Regions from separate parts of the Homo sapiens genome. Here regions 2 and 3 are each linked to region 1. Evidence: fine-mapped expression QTL. A gene starts in region 1. Each other region holds a variant in brackets. All regions are shown on one strand. Distances are from middle to middle.

Region 1 (8,184 bases):
TATTTGGTGGGTGATAATTATAGGTTATGAGTAAATAATTCCAAAGTTTTTTGATATCATGTATAGAGCCACGGTAAGAAGAGCAGGAAGATGAACTCAATTTTGAAAACGTATTTGACACGAGGATAAGCTATCCAAGTAAAAGCTAGTAATAGGCAACATTTTTCCTAACATTGTTCCAAGTATACTTCACATGTATTATGTCACGTAATCATTACAATAACACTATGAGGTGCTATTATCATCTTTATTTTACAGATGGGAAAACTGAGGCACAAGAGTGAACAATTTGCCCAAAGTCATTAGCTAATAAGTGGCTGAGCCAGTGCAATGAATTCACCCCCACCCCTGTCTCCTGCAAATTCGTATTTTTGAAATCTTCACCCTCAATGTGATGGTATTAGGAGATGAGGCCTTTGGGAGGTAAACCCCTTGTGAATGGGATTAGTGCCTTATAAAAGCAACCCGAGAGCTCTTGCTCTCTTTCTGCATTGTGAGGTAAAGGGAAAAAACAGCCATCTACAACCCTGAAGAGGGCCTTCACCAGAACCTGACCATGTTGGCAGCCTGATTTCAGATATCCAGCCTCCAGAGCTATGAGAAATACATTTCTGTTGTTTATAAGCCACCAGTCTATATGGTACTTTACTACGGCAACCTGAACTCACTGAGAGCCAGGATTTGAATTCAAATGTTGAGAAAACTTTGCCCGGGACCACTCAGAAATTCACTATTTATTCGATAAATACCTAACAAGTACCACTATATTCTAGACATTGTGCTGTTGCTAGGGAGAGGAAAAGCTGGTAGTGAACAAGACAGACGTGGTCCTTACCTGCACAATTACATGGACACTAAACAAATAATGAGAAGTAGGAATTGGAAAAGAAAGTGATAAGTTACAGTTAAGTAGGAGGAATGGGTGACAGAAAAAAATTCCAGGGGAAGGGAAGGGCATGTGTAAATGCCCTGAAGTGAGAGCCTACAGTAGGGAATAAAAAGAGGAGAGCCTGGAAAAAATTAAAATACTATGGCAGGAGTGCAGGCAGCTAGGGGGACAGATGGAGAGGCTGGAGAGAAAGACAAGTACAGATAATGGAGCTTAGACAATGTGTGGTAAGCAAAGGGAGACCACTGGAGGAATTTAAGCAGGTCAATGATCAGATTTATATTTAAAAAATTACTCTGGCAGCAGTATGGCAAATGTATTGGAACGAGGCAAGAGCAGTTTTGGAGGACCTGAATGGGTTACTGTGGGACTTCAAGCAAGAGGCAACAGTGGTTTAGACTAGAATGGGAATGAAAAAATGGTCATGGGAACAGAGAGAGGTCACAAATCCAATTTTCCAGGGAGCAGACAGATGTAGGTGATTCTGCTGTGTGTTGGAGGTGTGCTAGGTTTCTGGCATGAACTGGGTAGATGTTAAGATACCCTTTACTGAACCAGGGACTATGGGAGGAGCGTTTTGAAGGAATTATGATATACGGGTTGAGTTTGAAATGCCCTAAGTCATCCAAATGAAAGTGTACCAAAGGCAGTATGCTGGGAACTATGAATGTAGGATTCCAGAGCAAGATCTAGGCTTGAGTTATGGATTGAAGAGTCTTTGACAGAGGGTATTTGATGCTGCTGGGAGAGCATAAGACCACCTAGGAAAGTGTATGGGGAGACTCAGTAAGAGGGCCAGGGTTCAGCTCAGCATGATTCCAATGTGTAAGAGGTAGATCAAGGAGGAGCTGGTTGTTAAAGAGCAAACTCAGGTAGGGAGGAAACCTGGGACATAAGACCAGAGGGAAGAGGGTATTTGGAAGCAACTGTGGTCAATCGCGTCAAATACTGGGATGAGGGCTTGTAAAATGAGGACTGAAAATGATCCGCTGCATTTACAGTCATGAAGCTTGTCTGTGGACAATTCAGAGCCACTTCAGGTGAGCGGTGGGGACACTGGAGAGGGCTGGGAGGTGGGACATGAAAGACTGTCCATGGGGTAAGAGACAGCTGCAGTTGTTGGAGAGCAATTTAGGGAGAAGAGAAATCTTTTTAAAGAATTGAAAGACTTAAGCATGTTTAAATACCAGTAAGAAAGAGCCGGTAGAGAAGGAAAGGTTGAGAGTAACAGAAGGAAAGGAGACTCGTTAAGGGCAAAGTCCATAAGAAAACAGTAGGGTACCTGGAGTACCAGGAAGGACAACTCTTTCTTTACAAGAGAAGTGAGTCATGGGCGGAGTCCAGAATCGAACCCTCTCTGCTTCCTAAAGACACGTCTCCTTTAAAGGACAGAAAAAGAATGATTAAGACTTGAGGCCGGGCGCGGTGGCTCATACGTGTAACCCCACCACTTTAGGAGGCCGAGGCGGGTGGATTACCTGAGGTCAGGAGTTCCATACCAGCCTGGCCAACATGGTGAAACCCCGTCTCTACTAACAACACAAAAATTAGCCAGGTGTGGTGGCAGGTGCCTGTAATCCCAGCTACTAGGGAGGCTGAGGCAGGAGAATCGCTCGAAACCGGGAGGCGGAGGTTGCAGTGAGCCGAGATCGTGCCACTGCACTCCAGCCTGGGCGACAAGGGCTAGACTCCGTCTCATTAAAAAAAAAAAAAAAAAAAAAAAGACTTGAAACCCCAAGGAGAGGGCTGCAGAGTTCACTATCAAGGAGAATGGGGACCTAGTGGTGCCGTCCTGAGAGACCTCTGAAAGAACAATTCAGTAGTTTCCAGCCACGGAAGTCCCCCTGCTGGGTTTAGGGTGCAGTGGGTGCGAATCCCTGCTGTAGAAAACAGGCTGAGGAAAGAAAGCGACACAGGATGTTGTCTGGAGAAAGGCGGGGAGGTAGGATGGGGCATATTTCCAGGGGTCCGGGCAGGTTGTGTGGCTTGGAGGCCTCCGAGGGCCGTCGACGTCAGCCATGGTCCGGGCAGAGCCCCGCAAGGTGCCACAGTATCGGGGCCAGCGCCCCCCGGAAAAGCATGCTCCGCTGGCGGCCGCCAGGTTTCTCCGCGGAGTCTCGGAAAGGAAAACCCGTCCCCACGGGGGTCCCACGACGCCCCCGGGTCCCAGGCCCCGGGACGTTGGCAGAGGCGCAGCAGACCTTCTTCCCCAGCCCGCACGGCTCCAGCGGTCCGGCCGCGTCCCAGCCCGGGCTGCCCGTCCCCCGTCTCCCGGCGGCGTCGGAAAGTTCCCGGGGCTGGCGGCGGTCAAGAGCAGAGCCAGGGCAGCCGCAGCCGCCTTCTAGCCCGCCGCTCACCGCCGCAGGGGCAGGCCTGAGCGGGGGTTTCCACCAAGTCGCCGACACCCCTCGGGAATTCCCCCACTGGGCCACACACAAACCCCGCTTCCTCCTTCAAATTTCCGCTGCCGGCTTTACCGATGCGAAAGCCGCGGTGGAGTTTAGACCACTCCTCCCGGCGCCGGGCTCAGCCCGCCTTCGCCTTCCCTCTCCCCGCGGAACCCCTTCTCGTCGCCCGAAGAAACCCGAAGGTCTTCGGCAAGTTCCGTCCCCAGCGCGGGGGCGGGGCCGCTCGAGCTGCTCCGGGCCTAGCTCGGCTGTTTCCGTGCGCGGCCGCTGCGCACTCGGCACTGGGCGGCGCTGGCTGGCTCCCTGGCTGCGGCTCCTCAGTCGGCGGCGGCTGCTGCTGCCTGTGGCCCGGGCGGCTGGGAGAAGCGGAGTGTTGGTGAGTGACGCGGCGGAGGTGTAGTTTGACGCGGTGTGTTACGTGGGGGAGAGAATAAAACTCCAGCGAGATCCGGGCCGTGAACGAAAGCAGTGACGGAGGAGCTTGTACCACCGGTAAGAGGAGCAGGAGGAGGAGGCAGGAGCCAGAGAGAGCCGGGGGGACGGAGGGGGGACGGGGAGGCGCCGGACACCCGCGCTTGGGGCCTTCCCCTCGCAGGAGGGGCCGCGGTAAAGATGGAGCCTCCGCCCGAGCCCCACAACATCGCCGCCGCTCGCAGCGAACAAAGAATAATGGCGGCGGACTGGAGCCAGCGGCGGCCGGGGCGGCAGCGACTCTGCCTGCAGCCAGCGGCGGCGCTCATGGCGGGGGGCGGCGGGCGGCGGGCGGCGGGCGGGGTGGGAGCCGGCGGCCGGGGGTGTGTGCGGGCGGCCGGCCGCGGCGAGCTGGCGCCCGCGTTCCCGCCGCCGCCGCCGGGCCGGGCGCGGAGCCGGGAACCCGGAGCCGCCCCGGGGGAGGCCGCCCGCTCGGCCCGGCGCTGCCCCCCGCGCCGCTCGCTCGTCCGGCCCCCGCCGCCCGCCTCGCCCCCGGCCCGACCCGGCCGGGCCTCCGGGGCAGCCGCCGCCTAGGTGCCGGTGGGGGATGGAGGAGGAAGAAGGCGACAGTTGAGGGCAGAGGAGGTGAAGGTGCCTGCTGCCTTCCCGGTGGCTTCGGTGCCTGCCATGCCCGCTTCGCAAGGGGAAGAGCTGCAACGTCTGACCTACTCTTCTCTCCACTCTTTGTGCAATAAAGTTCGAAACCCAAGGTTTCCTCTCGTGCTGTATTTTATTCGTGCCCTTTCCCCCCCGCTCCTACACCGTTGAGGAAATGCTGCTTTCTGCCCTGTGTTGCTTAGTTGAGAGATGAGAGCTTGTGCTTTTGGGGGGAATTTTTGACTCCCTCACCCCTTTGCTTTTTTTTTTTTTTTAAAGTCAGTCATGGAAATGCATGCTTTTTGGGAGAAAGGGTGCTAAGAAAAACATTTATAATAACTTTTTAAACTGTTGGGATCTTATAAAAGGGAAGCTGGTGTTTGAAAACAGTTTCGGTTTTAACCCTTTTTAATAAGGTAATCATCACTTGAGATCTATCATTCTGAAACACTTCGTTGGAACGAGTATCAGCCGATGTACTCTTGTTTTACATCATTTCGCGGGGTGCAACCTTGCCAACCGCGTTTGGGTCATCTGGATCTCCCCTCACCCTCCGTCCCACTCCCCCTACCATATTTCCCACGAATTTCTGTGTGAACTTTAATGAGAGATTGATTTAATACTACTACTAAAAATAGACATTAAAGTATCCATTATTTGTCTCATGCAGTAGGTAACCCCCGTCTTGAGATTGACAATTTAAGCCACAAGCTGTATTTTTTCTTCGCCTGTTGGGAAAAGAGGACAGCAGAAAAGTCATTGACACATTAAAAATTAAAAGACAGTTTTTGAAGGACGTGCGGTATGACCTATTTAAGTTTGTAATACCATCTCAAGTTATAATTCTAACCTCAGCTGGCGTCTAACTTCTGAAGGTTTAGTAGAAGATACTTTTGATTGCTGCCTATTGAAATCTTTTACATTTATGGCTCATTTCGTGATTTAAAAGTAAAGCCCCGAACAGTTATTTTAGGTGGTGCAAAAGACGAACAAGTTTGTTTTAAAAATACTTGTCTGTCACTGTATGATTGCATTGTGATTGATACGTACAAACCTTCTGGTTAAGAACAAATATTGATTGGCAGCAGAAGCACTGTCTTATTTTTCTGTATTCTAGTCACTTTTCCAAAACGTGCTTTGCTGTATTGCTTCTCTTTAAAAGACCACATTGGCAATTTGTCATTTCCAAGAAAATTAAGAAGAGGCAATAAAGGCAGGTTTTCTATAAAGATTGGGGAAATGATTTTATTTCCGAGCACTGAAAAAATTATAGTATTGATAATGGTAGCTTACCATTTTTCCTTTATGTTGTTCCGCAAGCCACTATCAGTAGAGTAGAATTTTTTTTCTTGTTAAGAATATAAGTCGGGCGCGGTGGCTGAGGCCTGTAATCCCAGCACTTGGGGGGTCGAGGCGGGCGGATCACTTGAGGTCAGGAGTGCAAGACCAGCCTGGCCAACATGATGAAACCCCATCTCTACTAAAAATACAAAAATTAGCCGGGTGTGGTGGCACGCGCCTGTAATCCCAGCTACTCGGGGGGCTGGGGTTGCAGTGAATTGAGATCGTGCCATGCACTTCAGCCTGGGCGACACAGCAAGACTCCGTCTCAAAGAAAAAAAAAAAAAAGAAAGAATATATGACTCTTCATTTGTGAGATTTTTAAAAAATTGTTCACTGATGGCCGAGTGCGGTGGCTCACATCTGTAATCCCAGCACTTTGGGAAGCCGAGGCAGGCGGCTCACGAGGTCAAGAGATCGAGACCATCCTGGCTAACATGGTGAAACCCCGTCTCTACTAAAAATACAAAAATTAGCTGGGTGTCGTGGCGCGTGCTTGTAATCCCAGCTACTAGGGTAGCTGAGGCAGGAGAATCTCTTGAGCCCAGGAGGTGGAGATTGCAGTGAGCCGAGATCGCGCCACTGCCCTCCAGCCTGGTGACAGCGAGACCCCATCTCAAAAAAAAAAAAGTTTACTGATAAGTTCTTTCTTTAGTCTTGCCCGAGAGATATTTTAAATTGTATTTTTTATTTTTATTTTTATTTATTTGTTTTTTTGAGACGGAGTTTGGCCCTTATTGCCCAGGCTGGAGTGCAGTGGGCTGGTCTCGGCTCACTCACTGCAAGCTCCGCCTCCCGGGTTCAAGCAATTCTCCTGCCCCAGCCCCCCGAGTAGCTGGGATTACAGGTGTGAGCCACCGCGCCCGGCCTGTTTTATTATTTATACATTCATAATTTGTGATTCTTAGCAATTCCAGGTGAAACTTCAAACTTGTATTCATTAATACTTGAACATTCACCTGGAACATGTTACTAAATTGTACTTCTGCACTGTTCCAGCCATGGATAAAAATTACAGCTGGATCTGCTTGAATCTTTTTTTTTTTTTCATGAACACCTACATTTAGAAAGCTAATAAATTACTTGACAGAGTTTGCTTGAAGAATGTTAAAAGAACACTTCTTTGGGAATTTAAAACTTAAGTGTTACCTGTTTTGAATGATTTTTTTTTTGTTTACATAAAGAGCCTGAAGAAACTTAGACACCTGATCCATAAAAATGGCACCTTTTTCTACTTTCTGAAACTCATATTCTTGATTAGGTCTCATTATTAGAAATTTTGGGTTCTTCATAGAGAAGTAGCTTTATTTCTCTCTCATTCTAAGACATTTGGTTTTGTTTGTTTGGATACAGTATGGTTATGGGGTTATAGTAAAACCAAGTATGTCTTCCTCACGTGTTTTTAAATTCTACTTTTTATAACAGAAAATTATTTTTAACCTAATGCTTACAATATATTACCGAAATTTATAATTTCATTTATTCCATAAATAGCTTATCAGATATGAGTTACATAAACTTGTTTACAGCCAGCTTGTGACATAGTTTTGCAAATATCTTGATATATGGTGTAACTTTGATGGCTTCTTTATTGAATAGAGCTCAAATCTAAATTTAAGAATGTAATGAGATGTCAAGATGGAAAAATGCAGGATTTTTTTTTTTCTTACCCATGTGTAAACTCATCTGTACTGCAGTATCACTTGAGACAGCAGTTTATGGTAATTCAAATATTTATTTGGCACTCACTGTGACAGAGAATGTAGTTGAAAGAGCATGAGGTTTGGAATCATAGGCCTAGGTCTGAATCCAAGCATTGCCACTGCTATCCTGTACCCACCCTAAAGGAATTTTGTGTCCTGAAGGAAGTTTCTTAATCTTTCTCAGCCTCAGTTTCCTTATATGTAAAATTAGAATACTACTACTTATTTCATAAGATTGCGAGATAAACATAAAGTACCTTAGGGCTACAACTAATGATAGCTAGTCCCTTAAGCTTTATTTTAACTTCCTACCTGTGGGCCCTTAGGCAAGTTATCTTAACTTCTTAATACCTCACTTTCCTTTCTGATCAGTGTAGAACAACTACCTCAGAATTGTGGGGGTTAACTATAAAGTAATACATACTAAGTCCCAGGCATTGTGCAAGTGTCAAGTGCTCAAGTGTTGACAAGGCTTTTTTCTTTTGTTTTAATTTTTTTTTGAGACGGAGTCTTGCTCTGTTGCCCAGGATGGTGTGCAGTGATGCAGTCTCAGCTCACGGCAACCTCTGCTTCCTGGATTCAAGTGATTCTCCTGCCTCAGCCTCCCTAGTAGCTGGAACTACAGGCATGCACCACCACGCCCGGCTAATTTTTGTGTTTTTAGTAGAGACAGGGTTTCACCATGTTGGTCAGGCTGGTCTTGAATGCCTGGGATTATAGGCGTGAGCCACCACGCCCAGCTGGTCTGTTACTTTTTAAATTATTTATTATTACT
Region 2 (8,184 bases), 75 kb before region 1:
ATAAAATAAGATAGTAGTTTCATATAACCTATGCACATCTTCCCATATTCTTAAAATCATCTCTAGATTACTTATAATACCTAATATAATGTAAATGCTATGTAAGTAGTTGTTATACTATATTGTTTAGGGAAAAATGACAAGAAAAATGTCTGTCCATGTTCAGTAGAGATGCGTGCTCTTTAAAACAATATTTTCAATTCCTGATTGGTTGAATCCACAGAAGCAGAATCCATAGATACAGAAGAGATGACTGTCAGGGAGATGACTGTCATCAAAAAGAAAAAAACTGAACTGTTTAGAAATTGGTCAAATAAAAAATCTTAAAAGCCTTTTCCACAAAAAAACTAGTAAAAAAGCTTTAGCCAGGCCAACTGTGGTGGCTCACACCTGTAATCCCAGCACTTTGGGAGGCCAGGGCGGGCCAATCATGAGGTCAGGAGATCGAGACCATCCTGGCTAACACAGTGAAACCCCGTCTCTACTAAAAATACAAAAAATTGGCCGGGCGTGGTGGCACACGCCTGTAGACCGAGCTACTAGGGAGGCTGAGGCAGGAGAATCGCTTGAACCTGGGAGGCGGAGGTTGCAGTGAGCCGAGATTGCACCACTGCACTCCAGCCTGGGTGACAGAGCTAGACGCCAACTCAAAAAAAAAAAAAAAAAGCTTTAGCCATCTGAGCAGATAATCTTAACTTGTATCATTTATCAGGTCTAGCTAGTGAGTCTTGAATTATCAGACTTGGTGCAAGGCTAAAAGTGTTAGAGTAAAAGATGTAAGATCTGCTTCTATCTGTATGTTTATGTCATTAAATATAATACAGACATATATTTTTGCCTGCGTTTGCTGGCCAGACAGGTGTATTGTCTCTGCTAGATGGTTAAGGTCATAAAATTATAAACGCAACCTTCAAACAGAATACACAGTAAAAATGAATTCCTGAATTGCTTGATGCACATCAGTCACGGAGAAAAAAAAGAGGAAAGAACCATGTTTAACTTTCTTGTTTCTTTGCTTCTATGATATTTTGCTTGCCTGATTTGTCAACAACAAAAACAACTTGAGACAGAGGTTAGCTTTGTTTGATGTCTCATAAAATTGTCATGAACAGTTCACATAAAATTGTTAAGAATGAGTGAGTTACTGGCTGGGCGTGGTGGCTCACGCCTGTAATCCCAGCACTTTGGGAGGCCGAGGCTAGCGGATCACAAGGGCAGGAGATCGAGACCATCCTGGCTAACATGGTGAAACCCCGTCTCTACTAAAAATACAAAAAATTAGCTGGGCATGGTGGTGGGCACCTGTAGTCCCAGCTATGCGGGAGGCTGAGGCAGGAGAATGATGTGAACCCGGGAGGCAGAGGTTGCAGGGAGCCAAGATTGCACCACTGCACTCCAGCCTGGATGACAGAGCAAGATTCCGTCTCAAAAAAAAAAAATCAAAAAATAAAATAAAAGCACTTAGTTATTTTAAAAAAAAAAAAAAGAATGAGTGAGTTACCAAATGAACTAAATAAGGTGAACTACATAAGGTGCTGGGACCAATCCTGGAGAAACAGATATGTGACCTTTCCGACACAGCATTCAAAATAGCTGCTTTGAGGAAACTCAAAGAAATTCAAGATAACACAGAGAATGAATTCATAATTCTATCAGATAAACTTAACAAAGAGATTGACATAATTTAAAAGAACCAAGCAGAAATTCTAGAGTTGAAAAATGCAATTGACATACTGAAGAAAGCATCAGAGTATCTTACCAACAGAAATGATCAAATAAAAGAAAGAATTAGTAAGCTTGAAGACAGCCTACACGAAAATGCACAGAGGAGACAAAAGACAAAAATAATAAAAAAGAATGAAGCATGCCTACAAGATCTAGAAAATAGCCTCAAAAGGGCAAATCTAAGAGTAACACGCCACAAGCACACACAACCAAAGCAAAAATGGACAAATGGGACCACATCAACTTAAATAGCTTCTGCACAGCAAAGAAAACACTCAACAAAGTGAAGAAACAGCCAACAAAATGGGATAAAATATTTGCAAACTACCCATCTGACAATGGATTGATAACTAGGATATATAAGGAGCTCAAACAGCTATATAGGCAAAAATTTAACAATCCAATTAAGAAATGGGCAAGGCTGGGCATGGTGGCTCACATCTGTAATCACAGCACTTTGGGAGGCCAAGGCAGGTGGATCGCTTGAGCCCAGGAGTGTGAGACCAGCCTGGGCAACAAAGTGAGACCTAGTCTCTAAAAAAAAATAAAAAAAGAATAGCCAAGCATGGGGGCACACTCCTGTGGTCCCAGTTACACGGAAGGCTGAGACAGAAGGATCACTTGAGTCTGGGAGGTCAAGACTATAGTGAGCTGTGTTTGTGCCACTACACACCAGCCTGGGTGACAGAGTGAGACCCTGTCTCAAAAACTAAATGAATACGTATTTTTAATTGGCCAAAAAAAAAAATTTTTTTTTTGAGATGTAGTTTCGTTCTTGTTGCCCAGGCTGGAGTGCAATGGCACCATTTCAACTCACTGCAACCTCCACCTCCTGGGTTCAAGAGGTTCTCCTGCCTCAGCCTCCCAAGTAGCTGGGATTACAGGCATGTGCCACCATGCCTGGCTAATTTTGTATTTTCAGTAGAGACAGGGCTTCCCACATTGGTCAGGCTGGTCTCAAACTCCCGACCTCAGGTGATCCGCCCGCCTTGACCTCCCAAAGTGCTGGAATTACAGGGGTGAGCCACTGCGCCTGGCCGGGAAAAAAAATTTGAATGGACATTTCCCAGAAGAAGACATACAAATGGCAAACAGGCATATGAAAATGGCTCAACATCATGGATCATCAGGAATATGCAAATCAAAATTACAATTAGATGTCATCTCACTCCAGTTAAAGTGGCTTTTATCCAAAAGACAGGCAACAACAAATGCTGGAGAGGATTTGGGGAAAAGGGAGCCCTTGTATGCTGTTGGTGGGAATATAAATTAGTACAACCACTATGGAAAACAGTTTGGAGGTTTCTCACAAAAGTAAAAATAAAGCTACCATACAATCAGGCAATCCCACTGCTAGGTATATACCCAAAAGGAAGGAAATCAGGATATGTAAGAGATATCTGGGCCGGGCGCGGTGGCTCACGCCTGTAATCCTAGCACTTCGGGAGGCCGAGACGGGCGGATCACGAGGTCAGGAGATCGAGACCATCTTGGCTAACACGGTGAAACCCCGTTTCTACTAAAAATACAAAAAATTAGCCAGGCGTGTTGGCGGGCGCCTGTAGTCCCAGCTACTTGGGAGGCTGAGGCAGGAGAATGGCATGAACCTGGGAGGCGGAGCTTGCAGTGAGCCGAGATCGCGCCACTGCACTCCAACCTGGGAGACACAGCGAGACTCCATCTCAAAAAAAAAAAAAAAGAGATATCTGCACTCCCATGTTTATTGCAGCACTGTTCACAATAGCTAAGATTTGGAAGCAACCTAAGTGTCCCTCAACAGATGAATGGATAAAGAAAATGTAGTACATTTACATGATAGAGTACTATTCAGCCATAAAAAAGAATGAAATCCCGTTATCTGCAACAACATGGATGGAATTGGGACTCATTGTATTAAGTGAAATAAGCCAGGCACAGAAAGACAAACTCATGTTCTCGCTTATTTGTGGGAGCTAAAAATTAAAATGATTGGCCAGGTGTGGTGGCTCACGCCTGTAATCTCAGCACTTTGGGAGGCTGAGGCAGGTGGATCACAAGGTCAGGAGATCGAGACCATCCTGGTTAACACGGTGAAACCCCGTCTGTACTAAAAATGCAAAAAATTAGCTGGGCGTGGTGGCAGGCACCTGTAGTCCCAGCTACTCCGGAGGCTGAGGCAGGAGAATGGTGTGAACCCAGGAGGCGGAGGTTGCAGTGAGCCGAGATTGTGCCACTGCACTCCAGCCTGGGCAACAGAGCGAGAGTCTGTCCC[C/CA]AAAAAAAAAAAAAAAAAAATTAAAACGATTGTTGAACTCATGGAGATAGAGAGTACAAGGATGATTACCAGAGGTTGGGAAGGGGGCTTGTAGGGAAGTGGGAAGAGTTAATGGGTACAAAAAAAGTTAGAAAAAATTAGTAAGACCTAGTATTTGATAACAGGGTGACTGTAGTCAATAATAATTTAATTGTACATTTTTAAATAACTAAAAGCATAATTGGATTGTAACATAAAGGATAAATGCTTCAGGGGAAAGCTATCCCATTTTACATGATGTAATTATTATGGATTGCATGCCTATATCAAAGTATCTAATGTATCCCATAAATATAGACACCTACATACCCACAAAAATTAAAACTTGAAACTTAAAAAAAAGAATGAGTGAATTAGATGAATATAAGTAGGATAATAGTTTATAAGCAAAGTTTTTCAATAACAATTATGTTTTAGAAAATATGTCTAGTTAAAAATAGTTTTAAAATCTTTTTGGTAACTTGAAACCTTAAAATGAAATTAAGTAATAGATACTTATTAAATATCTGGGTCACTTCTAAGTAAGTTAAAAATATTGAAACACTAATTACTAGGCACAAGTTTATGTACTTTGGCATCTTGTTTTTATATAGTACAGAGAAGCTAAATAGATTGAAGTTGGTTAAAAACATGAAAAATTGCTTCTAGAAATTATGAAATGATGAATGCTGTTATAAAAGAGTTTATAATGCTTGCTAGTTTTCACTAGAAATTAAGGTTACTGGCCAGGCATGGTGGCTCACGCCTGTAATCCCAGCACTTGGGGAGGCCAAGGCCGGCTGATCACGAGGTCAGGAGTTTGAGACCAGCCTAGCCAACATACTAAAACCCCGTCTCTACTAAAAATACAAAAATTAACCGGGCATGGTGGCGCGTGCCTGTAGTCCTAGCTACTTGGGAGGCTGAGGCAGGAGAATCACTTGAACCTGGGAGGCGGAGGTTGCAGCGAGCTGAGATCACGCCACTGCACACCAGCCCAGGCGACAGTGCAAGACTCAGTCTCAAAAAAAAAAAAAAAAAAAAGAAAAAAAGAAATAAGGTTACTAAGAGTTAAACGTTATAATTAACATATGTAATTAAACTGCCAGAAAATATGAGGGAAAACTTTCTTTGCTTAGAAATAAGATGCATTTGATAAGGAAAGTTATGTAAATGACACATTTTTGTTTTTTAAAAAGGCTGAATTTTTTTTAAGTTTTAAATGATTTATGGAAATGTTATCTTTTGTGATCAAAACTAAGATTGGATGAATTTATTAAAAGATTTTATTTAAAATTAGCTTTAGTATTAATAGTACGCTAATGCAAAAGTGGAATTTGGTCTTCTCTGTTAAAGTAACAAAGTTTTCTAGAAGTATTGGTCTGAGAATGTGAAGGTTTTTTTTTTCTCCTTTTCAGTAACTGACCTAGAAAACAAAGATTTTGTGTTTTATCAAGATCATTTTTGGGCTTCATGCTGTATTTTATTAGGTCTTTGATTACATTTTATTCACAACTATGCAACCTTTTGTATTTGCCTTTAAAATCTTTTGTTGTCGGCCAGGTGCAGTGGCTCACCTGTAATCCCAGTGCTTTGGGAGGACAAGGCAGGAGGACTGCTTTAGCCCAGGAGTTCAAGACCAGCCTGGGAAATACTGCAAAACTCCATCTCTACAAAAATAAAAATAAAAATAAATGAGCCAGGTGCAGTGGCGCATGCCTGCAGTCCCAGCTACTCAGAAGGCCAAGGTGAGAGGATTGCTTTAAGCCAGGAGTTTGAGGCTGCAGTGAGCTATGCTTGTGCCACTACACTCCAGCCTGGGTGACAGAGTGAGACCCTGTCTCTAAAAAAATGTTAAAAAAAATAGAAAATTGTTTTTCTATTTAAAACTGTCACTTTAATTAGATAGCCAATATCATATTTAATTTTTTTAAACCTTTTGACATTTTGACATACTTCCCAAAATCAAATTCTAAATTAAGTCTTTTTGACCTTGAACTTACTTTGAGATTTACCAGTTAGGCCTCTTGAAAGCTACAAAATATGTGTTTTTCTCACCTTGTAAAAGAAAGATATTAAAATAATTGGGCTTACATATATTTGATGCATTAAATTATATAGTAAGTGTGGTCAAATAATGAGTAATGCTAAACCTAGAGTTATACTTAGGAGCGTATTATTGATATGAAAATGTGAGATTTTTAAAAGTCTAATGTTATCAGTAACAATTCTGGCAATTATGTTAAAATGTTGTATCCACAGAAATAACTAAATTTCCTTGTCAACTGCTGACTATAATGAACTCTCATCAGATTTTTAACCATGGCCATATTAAGTCTTTGTCATCTACAGGCCATTACTGTTTTGATTTTTGTCTAAAAGTATTGGCAATCAGCGATAGTCCAAAACTGCTTTTCTTCGAAAAGATTCATAGAAAAGACTTTGACAAATACCCTTGAATACAGGTTTCTAATAACCATAAGATCATACCATTGGACTGTGTGAGAATTTTCAGAACTCTAATGAAGAAATGAATGGCTTCATGAAACTGCCAAGCAAGATCAAGCAGATCAAGAATTAATTACGTGAAACTGAACTGATGAAGGTAATGTTTTCATGACTTTTAATTTGAAATTTTTAAATTTGAAATTTGGTTCTTATTGTAAATGTTTCCTTTTACAGATTTAAAGAAACTATTTCTCTTAAGCTTTCTAGAGCTTGCAGAGATCTGGTAGCATATACTTTTGTGAACAGAATTGGAACAATTACTTTTTCTTCCTACCTGATCCTGCTAGGACTCAGAAACTATTTGTGAGTATTCTTATTTTTATGGCAATATAATTATTTATACTAGTTTAATAAAAATCTGTTCTCCTTGTAACAGGGCACAATTGGAAATACTGGTTATGTTACCTTACCAAGGCTTTGACTGGAATATTCTATTTTCAAATATGACAGACAACTTTAAAGAACTAAGGTTGACTTTATGGAGCCAATAAAGCCCGCGCTTGGATAAACTGGCCTGGTACTTTGAAAGCATCGTTCATATGGTTGCCTTAGAGGTAGGTAAAGAATGTCACCTCCTGGCAGGACCAGGAACCTCAGGATATTTTGGGGACCTAAAGCAGAGAGGAATTCAGCAAAATCTAGAAGTACTTCAGGTGAATTTTTTTTTTCTTTTTTTTTTTTGAGACGAAGTCTCGCTCTTCTCCCCCAGGCTGGAGTGCAATGGCACAGTCTCGGCTCACTGCAAGCTCCGCCTCCCAGGTTCAAGCAATTCTCCTGCCTCAGCCTCCCGAGTAGCTGGGATTACAGGCGCCCGCCACCACGCCCAGCTAATTTTTGTATTTTTAGTAGAGACGGGGTTTCACCATGTTGGCCAGGCTGGTCTCAAACTCCTGACCTTGTGATCCGCCCGCCTCAGCCTCCCAAAGTGCTGAGATTACAGGCATGAGCCACCATGCCCAGCCACTTCAGGTGAATTTTAATGGTGAATCTTAAGCTTGGCCTCCTGGCCTCAAGAGGCTTTTCAATGTCTAATCTGAGATTCCTTATAAAACGTTCCAGCAAAGCAAATTTAAAGACAGCCTATGTGGCCAATCACTACTCTTGCTGAACTTGTATAAATAATCAGGTCAAGTTTAATGAAACTAAATTTATTTTGCAAACAAATTAGTTTTACTTTGATTATCTTTGATAGAGATGAAGGTGACTATAGAGAGAAAAATTTTGTTTCAGAAGAAAAGTATAGTGCACCCAGTATTAGATGCTAGCTCATTGTTTTTGAGAGTTTGTTATCCACCTGAAATCTGTGCTGGATCCTGAATTTCTCTAGTTTCTTCCAATATCTGGCTATGACTCACCAAACGAATATTTCCAATTTTTATCCCAGTCTTCTGGCTTGGAATCACTAAAAATTAAAGCACCCCTTTTTCTGAAGCCCTGCAAGGTGAAATTAGATGGCTTGATACAGACTTCAGAGAAATCACTACAACAGCTATGTAGAGATAACCTTCGGGCCTGCTGCTATATGGACTACTCAGAAAGCTCACTGGAACACCTGAAGCAAACTTTTGTAAACAAGGAAAATCTGTCAGATCATCACTGCCTGCCCCTGCTCCAGCTGGAAAGGCTTTAAGTCCAGCATCTAGAAATCTTGACTGGCTGCCCTCTAGAATTAAAAACTGAGT
Region 3 (8,184 bases), 32 kb before region 1:
CTGTAATGAGTGAATTGTGATAAAGCACAATGATAGTTTATTGAAGTAAGAGATTAGAAAGAGCTGATGCTTTCGTCTTACTATCTTTCTAAAGTGACAGTGAATTAACAAATTAAGAAAAATGTTTTAAACAGAAAACAATACAAGAGGTGGCTGGAAACTCTTTTTTTTCTACAGACTTGCAGGTATATATGTATTTGTGGATGCGCATAATGTGGCCTATTAGGTCTTTGTAACTGATTGGGACTTCAGTACGTTTGCCTGTCAACAAACAGGAAAAATAATGAACTTTGAAGAGCTCGGCTTATCTTTCCTTTTCTACTCTCTTCCTACATTTTAACTTTAAAATTAAATTGTTAAGTTATAGGTATTTATCTAATAACTGAGAGGTACTCTCGAAAGAACACATTTTACAAAATATGAATTAATCAGGATAAGAGAGGCTATGCTACATTAAAACATGGGCCAGTGAGGGCCAGTGGGGGGTCTCATGCCTATAATCTCAGCACTTCAGGAGGCAAAGGCGTCCCAAAGTGGATCACTTGAGGCCAGGAGTTTGAGACCAGCCTGGCAACATAGTGAAACCCCAACTCTACTAAAAATACAAAAATTAGCCGGCCATGGTGGCACATGCCTGTAGTCCCAGTTCCTCAGGAGGCTGAGGCAGGAGAATCGCTTGAACCTGGGAGGCAGATGTTGCAGTGAGCCGAGATCGTGCCACTGCACTCCAGCCTGGGCGACAAAGCAAGACTCCATCTCACAAAAAAAAAAAGCCAGTGACTTAACAAAGTTGAATTTCTTGCTCACACAGAGTGCTATGGCAATTGGGCACTCCCTAGCATCTGTCCTCTCTTTGGGAACTCAATAAACCAGGAGGCATCCATCCAATGGTTTCACTGTCTCAGCACATGGCTTTCCAAATCATAGCTGCAGAGAAAGACAGGAGCTGAAGGATTGCACACAGGCTTGTAAATGGTTTGGTTCAGATATGGCACGTGTCACTCCTCTTGTAGCTCAATCACCAGCATCGAACTCAACCAAGAATGACTGGAAAGGTATGGATGCACACACATCTCTGGTGGGTAAAGAATGTCTCTGACACAGAGCATTATATACATGCTTCCTTACTGCTACTACCACTAATGCTAATACTGTATGTTTATCACAACCAAAGTTTGTTTGCTTTTTTCATCTTTTTCAAGAAACAAACTTTTGGTTTTATTAACCAATTCTATGAAGGTTGTTTTGCTTCATTAATTTTGCTTTTATCTTTAATCTGCTGTAAATTCATTTACTCTTTGGGATTTATTTTTGTTGTTCCTTTTCTATCTTGAGTTGAGTACTTTATTTTGAATCTTTCTCATTTTCTAATAAAAAATCAAGCCTACAAATTTCCTTCTGGATACCTCTTTGGCTGCTTTCCGCAGTTTTGATATATACTACTTTCATTGTGGTTTCATTCTGAACATTTCACAATTTTATTTTGACTGTCTCTTTATCCAGAGAATTACATAGGGATGTGCTTTGTTAGTCTCCAAATGTACAGATATGGAGCCACTCTCTTTTGTTGTTAATTTATTATTGTATTACATCATAATCAAACAACATATCACCTATATGAAATCAAACATTTTTTAACTTGTTGAGTTTTTTTTCTGGCAGACTACTGCTATAGATCTTTTTGTAAAAGCTCCTTATATAATTCTTTACCTTGCTTTAGAGAGTGAGAAAATTTTAGAAAAAAACAAGCCACAAAAGAAATCTCAGCAAGTTAAAAAATGTTTGATTTCATATGGGTGATACCATGTTGTTTGATTATGATATGATACAATAATAAATTAACAACAAAAGAGAGTGGCTCCATATTTATTCAGATACCACTTTGGCTGCTTTCCACAGTTTTAATATATACTACTTTCATTGTGATTTCTTTCTGAACATTTCACAATTTTACTATGACAGATCCAGGTATTGTATTTTTATCTGCCACATAATGCCCACCACAGCAATGACGCTCACAGACACCACTGGTTGAAAACCTCAGCTCTATTTTGTAGATTTGGAGTTTAAGGAATTGGGTGATTGGGAGAAGACTGCAGGAAAAGCTGACTGGGTGGTAGTGGACATGAAGAATTTTCTTGGTTTATATTAAGTAACCATATCTTGTTCATCATTATATCTTGCTTATCTTTGTATGCACAATGCCTGGCACAGAGAAGGCAATCAATAAATGTAGATGACTAGATGAATTAGTATTTACCTAGGCAACTATGAGCATCACATGATAGCTAATGGCATGTAACAGAAATAAAATCCTATTTCATCTTCTGAAATATCAACAGCTTGTGAGAAGGTGTCACAACATTTACGTTACTTTTGTATCTTCCCCCATGCACAATGTTAAGCACAAAGTAAATACTTTTTTTTTTTTTTGAAATAGAGACTCACTCTGTTGACCAGCCTGGAGTGCAGTGGCACGATCTCAGCTCAATGCAACCTTCACCTCCTGGGTTCAAACAGATTCTCATGTCTCAGCCTCCCGAGTAGCTGGGAGTACAGGCATGTGCCACCACGTCCGGCTAATTATTACGTAATTTTTAGTAGAGACGGGGGTTTCCCCATGTTGGCCAGGCTGGTCTCGAACTCCTGGCCTCAAGTGATCCACCAGCCTCGGCCTCCCAAAGTGCTGTGATTACAGACATCAGCCACCACATCTGGCGGCAAATACTTCTTTTTTTTTTTTTTTCTTCTGAGACAGAGTCACTGTCGCCCCGGCTAGAGTGCAGTGGCGTGATCTCAGCTCACTGCAACCTCCATCTCCCGGGTTCAAGTGATTCTCCTGCTTCAGCCTCCCAAGTAGCTGGGATTACAGGTGCCCACCACCACACCCAGCTAATTTTTGTATTTTTAGTAGAGACGGGGTTTCACCATGTTGGCCAGGCTAGTCTCGAACTCCTGACCTCAGGTGATCCACCCGCCTTAACCTCCCAAAGTGCTGGGATTATAGGCGTGAGCCACTGCACCCAGCTGGAAAATACTTCTTAAATGCAATTTATAAGCATGTGTATTAGTTTCCTATTGCTGGTATAACAAATTACTACAAACTTAGTGGCTTAAAACAACACAGATGTGTTGTCTTACAGTTCTAGAGGTTAGTTCTAAATAGGTCTCACTGAGCTAAATCCACGGTGTCAGCAGAGCTGTGTTCTTTCCTAGAGCTTCTAGGGGAGAATCTGTTTTCCTGCCTTTTCCAGCATCTAGCAGCTGCCACATTCCTTGGCTTGGGACCTTGTTCCATCTTCAAATTCATCAGTAGCAGTTCTTTCTCACAATGCTATTTCTCTGTTTCTAACTCTTTTGCCTCTACTTTATCCACTTAAGGACTCAGGATAATCTTCTTATTTTAAGGCCAGCTGATAAACAATTTTAAGTATATCTGCAACCTTAATTCCCCTTGCCATGTAACATAACATTTACAGGCTCTGGTTGTGAGGACATGGACACCTTTTGGGGGTCATTATTGTGTCTATCATAGCACGTAAAACAAAGAAAAAGGACAAATAGAAGAAGAAAAGACAGTGAATGGACACAATGGAGTGACAGAGTTAATAACAGTAATAACACTAGAGATATAAGGATTGGTGCATGGACTACAAGATTCTCGAACAAGGCCAAAAAAAGGATCTGTCCCACACTATTAGCTAAATTCAAGCACTTGCACACACGTGAGTGCACAAACACACACACACAAAGTAATATTCTGGTTAGCTGATGTCACTGCTGGGATATTACTGTTTACTAATAATAAAACAAACTACACAAGGCATGAATGGCACGTGTGTTATTTATAGTTTTTGTAGAAGAAGTTCTCAAATTCCTTTCTTCCTGAAAAAGGATTATTTTCTTACCCTTTGCATTCTAGCTCACCTCTAACATGTCCAGAAATTTCTAGGAAGGCAGAGGAAAGACTCTACATTTGCCTCCCCAATTGAAGCCATCACCACGCAAGGGCTGAAGGTGATTGTCAAAGTGCCCTCCTGAGACTGGACACCGCTGGCCTAAATTAGAGGAGGAGGCTGGTAGACACCGCCCCCTCGTGCAGAGGGGCAGAGAAGCCATTCCCCATGGCTCCCCACCTGTCTTGCTGGAGGAAATTTCTTGGCTAAAAGTCCATGGAAAATGGTTGTTTGGAAAGTGAAGTTCCCTAGAGCTTTGAGAATCAACTTTTTTTTTTTTTTTTTTTTGAGATGGAGTTTCACTCTTGTTGCCCAGGCTGGAGTGCAATGGAGCAATCTCGGCTCAGTGCAACCTCCGCCTCCTGGGTTCAAGCGAGAATCAACTTTTTTCATCATTTTAAACCTACTTATTGGGAAATCTCTCTAAAATATATTACAGAAAAAGAATAATCATACCGAGTCAATACTGCATGAAAAGATATAATAGCATGGAATAAATTATTCATTTCCTTGCCTCTTAGAGAGTACTCTGAGTGCAATTTTAACCATTCTTTCTGGCTGTGAACCTCAGAGTTTTTTACAGTTCTGTAGAGCAGATAGAATGCCAATCTTCTTTGCATATTTATGTCATTTTTAAAAGGTTTTTGTTGCTGTTGTTTTATTTTGTTTTGTTTTTCCCTCCTCTGTGGT[T/G]GTCAGTGGTCACTTTTTAAATTTTGGTTTTGTCAGTGTGACTTCCTTTAACAACTTCCTTCCTCTTCTCCTTTGCTATGGAAAATAGTAACTAGGATACCAATCTAGTTAAACTTGTAAGTAAAATGAGGTAAAGTGAGATCCTAATAAAGATACAAGATACTTACAAGTGAAGTGTATGAGATTTAAGACAAAACCAGAGTGACGCTGCAGGCAGGACTGCCCATTCCATCTGGAATGCATGACTGTCTGTCATCTATTTGGCTACTTAGAAACTATTTTTACCTCTTCTCTATTTTTGTTCTGAATAGGTTAGTGTGAAATAATTGTTTTAGCAAGATGAAATATTGCTATATTTTTTAATGTGCCAAAGTCTTCTTTTTTTTTTTTTTTTTTTTTTGAGATGGTGGTCTCACTCTGTTGCCCAGGCTGGAGTCCAGTGGCACAATTTCGGCTGACTGCAGCCTCGACTTCTCAGGCTCAAGCAGCCTTCCAGTTCAGCCTCCCAAGTAGCTGAGACCACAGGTGCACACCACCATGCCCAGCTAAGTTTTAAATAATTTCTAGAGACAAGAGCTTGCTATGTTGCCTAGGCTGGTCTTGAACTCCTGGACTCAAGTGATCCTTCCACCTCGGCCTCCCAAAATGCTGGGATTATAGGAATTAGCCACCTCACCCAGCCAAAGTCTTGAAATGGGATAAAACAGGAGTCCTCAGTCCTGGTATTGACCCCCTCACCAAAGTCACGCCCCTTTCGATGTTTATAGCAACTTGATAAAAACCAGGGCTGTGAATTAAATGTCCATTAACAAAAGAATAGGCTCACTTTTATAACAAAATACTATGCAGCTATGAACTATGTATACTACATATTTATAAACACTAAGTGGAAATTATGTTCCTTCTTATATTGTTTAGTTAGAGGAGTGAGTATTGACAGAAAAATGCTTCCCTCTTTGATCCCCCAGGTTGACAGTTCTGAGATGCATTGCACAAGGCCCCCCAGGAGGTCCCAGCAAAATCTAGCACCAGTTACTCACGGCACTGTCCAGCTCAGTAATGAACCTTTCTATTAGCCGCCCCTCTTTCCCTGCTTCCCCCACTCCCCGCCCTGATCCCTGCCCCTACGCCCTGCAGTCACCTCCCCAAGTCAGTGCATACAAGCTTTTGTCTCAGAATTTGCTTTTGAGAGAAGCCACATTAAGAAAGACATTGCTGGCCAGGCCTGGTGGCTCATGCCTGTAATCCCAGCACTTTGGGAGGATCACTTTAACTCAGGAGTTCAAGACCAGCCTGGGCAACATAGCAAGACCTTGTCTCTACTAAAAAAATGTTTTTAATTACCTGGGCATGGTGGTGTGCACTTATAGTCCCAGCAACTAGGGAGGCCAAGACAGGAAGATCACTTGATCCAGGAAGCTGAGGCTGCAGTGAACTGTGATTGCATCACTGCACTCCAGCCTGAACAACAGAGCGAGACCCTGTCTCAGAAAACAAAACAAAAAAAGAAAAAAAGAAAGACATTGTCAAGTGAGGACATGGTGTTTAGAGCTGCCTTATCCATGTGGCAACCAGGGGGCAAGACCTAGAGAGCTTCAGAGAAGCTGACCCAGAATGCAGGCACAACTGAGCCACATAATGACCAACTACCTCTAGATATCTTGTTCTGTGAAAAGAATAAGCCCCTATTGTTTAAGTCACTCTTAATTGGGTTTTCTGTTACTTGCAGCAAAGGTACTTTTTTTTTTTCTTTGAGATGGAGTTTCACTCTTGTTGCCCAGGCTGGAGTGCAATGGCACGATCTCAGCTTACCACAACCTTCGCGCCCTGGATTCAAGCAATTCTCCTGCCTCAGCCTCCTGAGTATCTGGGATTACAGGCATGTGCCACCACGTCCAGCTAATTTTTTATATTTTTAGTAGAGATGGGGTTTCACCATGTTAGCCAGGATGGTCTCGATCTCCCGACCTCAGGTGATCTGCCGCCCGCCTCGGCCTCCCAAAGTGCTGGGATTACAGGCATGAGCCACTGCACCCAGCCCATGATACATGAGGCCAATTGAAGACCTCCTTGGGAATATTTTATGTAGAAAAGAAGGCAGAGGAACAAGCTCTCCGTATGGGGAAGCCTGAGGGTGTCAGCTAGGCAGCTCCTGGTGACCACAGTTCTAGCTTGTGGACAGTGCTGATCTGACAGAAGCAGAGAAAAAAAGAGAGAGAGAGTCCTGTGATTTAAATTCTTCTGGCAGTGAATTCCTCTTTTTGCCTAAGATATTTCACACAGCATTTCTATCACTTGCAAACAAGAGTCCTGCCTAATTTAAGTAAGAGCCATTCTTGTTTTGTTTTGTTTTGTTTTAAAAAAAAAAGTGGGGAAAAAAGTGGGTGCATGAGTGTGAATGTGTCTTCATCTAAGCATAGAAAAAATCGGAATGGATACACTTAACAGTTGACAGTAGTTATTTCTGGGGAGAGTCAGAATAGAGGGGAGTAAGGAGGACATATGTATCATTTGTACTTTGTAAACTTCTCAATGTTTAAACTTGTTATAATGAGCTTGTATCATTTTGCAATTTTAAAAGTCTAAAAACTACAGAAACTCTGAGATAATAAATGTGTGTTATTTGATGCTGTTAAGTTTGAGGTATACAGCAACGGAAAATACACATAGGGAATCACTGAAAACTTGACAACCACTGCTTGCAAACCACCCAACAAACCTCAGATAGACAACCACAGGTCCCAATGCCCACATAAAACCAGTAACAATTTGCTGAGTGAAGGACTGATGCTGGGAAGTTGTATCCAACTGGCCTGTGACCACGGCCCCACGTGCACAGATAATTTCCCCTAAAATCCAACCCAAGTAAGCCTATGACGTAAATTTAAAAACAAAACCTAAACCAGCAATCTTGCTCTGCAACTGCAGCTTCAAAACAAGCTTATCCACTTGCCCCTTTCCAACCCAATACATTTCTAGAGAGAAAAATCTAGAGTTGCCACAGGTCAATGAGTCTGTATAAAAAGCCTAAATGCTAAAGGAAGCAGGAAATATGGGGTACCATTCTACGCACACAAGCTGATGGGATGGAACCAGGACCAGAGAGAATGGGGTTATGGGAAATGGATACAGAGGCTGGCTCAGCCATGAGCCACTTGGTAGATAGGTCAAAGCACATAATCATAAGGACATGACAATCTCAGGGTGGAGATGACGTTGGCAAGTGGAGTGCAAACAGCTAAAAGGAAAGCAGGTGACAGTTCTGAGTGGTGCTAGCAGAACCCGAAATGAAAGGTGGAGTGTGCCAGGAACAGCAAGAGAGGGGACTGGCAAAATCCTGTGTGGGGCTAGAGAATTGGGAGGCAGCATCCATTTACAGGGAAGACCCAGATTCTGGGCAGGGATACTGAGGCAAAAATTCAGGCTTATGAATAGTAAAAGCTACATGGCATACTTACTACATGTCTACATGCCAAGTGCTTTAAACTATATTTCACTGAATTCTGCCAAAAACCCCATGAGGAGGGAACTTTTATCA

What was found. PIP is the estimated chance that this variant, and not a neighbour inherited with it, causes the effect.
Region 2: its variant is fine-mapped to the expression of CREB1 in whole blood (INTERVAL, PIP 0.98).
Region 3: its variant is fine-mapped to the expression of CREB1 in whole blood (INTERVAL, PIP above 0.99).

What each region holds. Positions count from the first base shown.
Region 1 is chr2:207,526,346-207,534,529 of GRCh38, forward strand. It overlaps CREB1 (cAMP responsive element binding protein 1), which reads left to right and starts at 3,617. Exons shown (of 8, transcript NM_004379.5): 1 at 3,617-3,789. LOC124907970 (a long non-coding RNA gene) reads right to left here and starts at 3,252. Exons shown (of 3, transcript XR_007088060.1): 1 at 3,091-3,252; 2 at 2,172-2,268. RefSeq lists silencers at 2,986-3,165, 3,836-3,965, 3,996-4,045, 4,756-4,925 and enhancers at 3,186-3,385, 3,646-3,745, 5,334-5,835, 5,836-6,335.
Region 2 is chr2:207,451,747-207,459,930 of GRCh38, forward strand. No RefSeq gene overlaps it. Among named protein-coding and RNA genes, the nearest start is that of CREB1, 74 kb to the right of the region's middle. The variant C/CA (reference allele first, on the strand shown) is at 3,977.
Region 3 is chr2:207,494,540-207,502,723 of GRCh38, forward strand. No RefSeq gene overlaps it. Among named protein-coding and RNA genes, the nearest start is that of CREB1, 31 kb to the right of the region's middle. The variant T/G (reference allele first, on the strand shown) is at 4,647.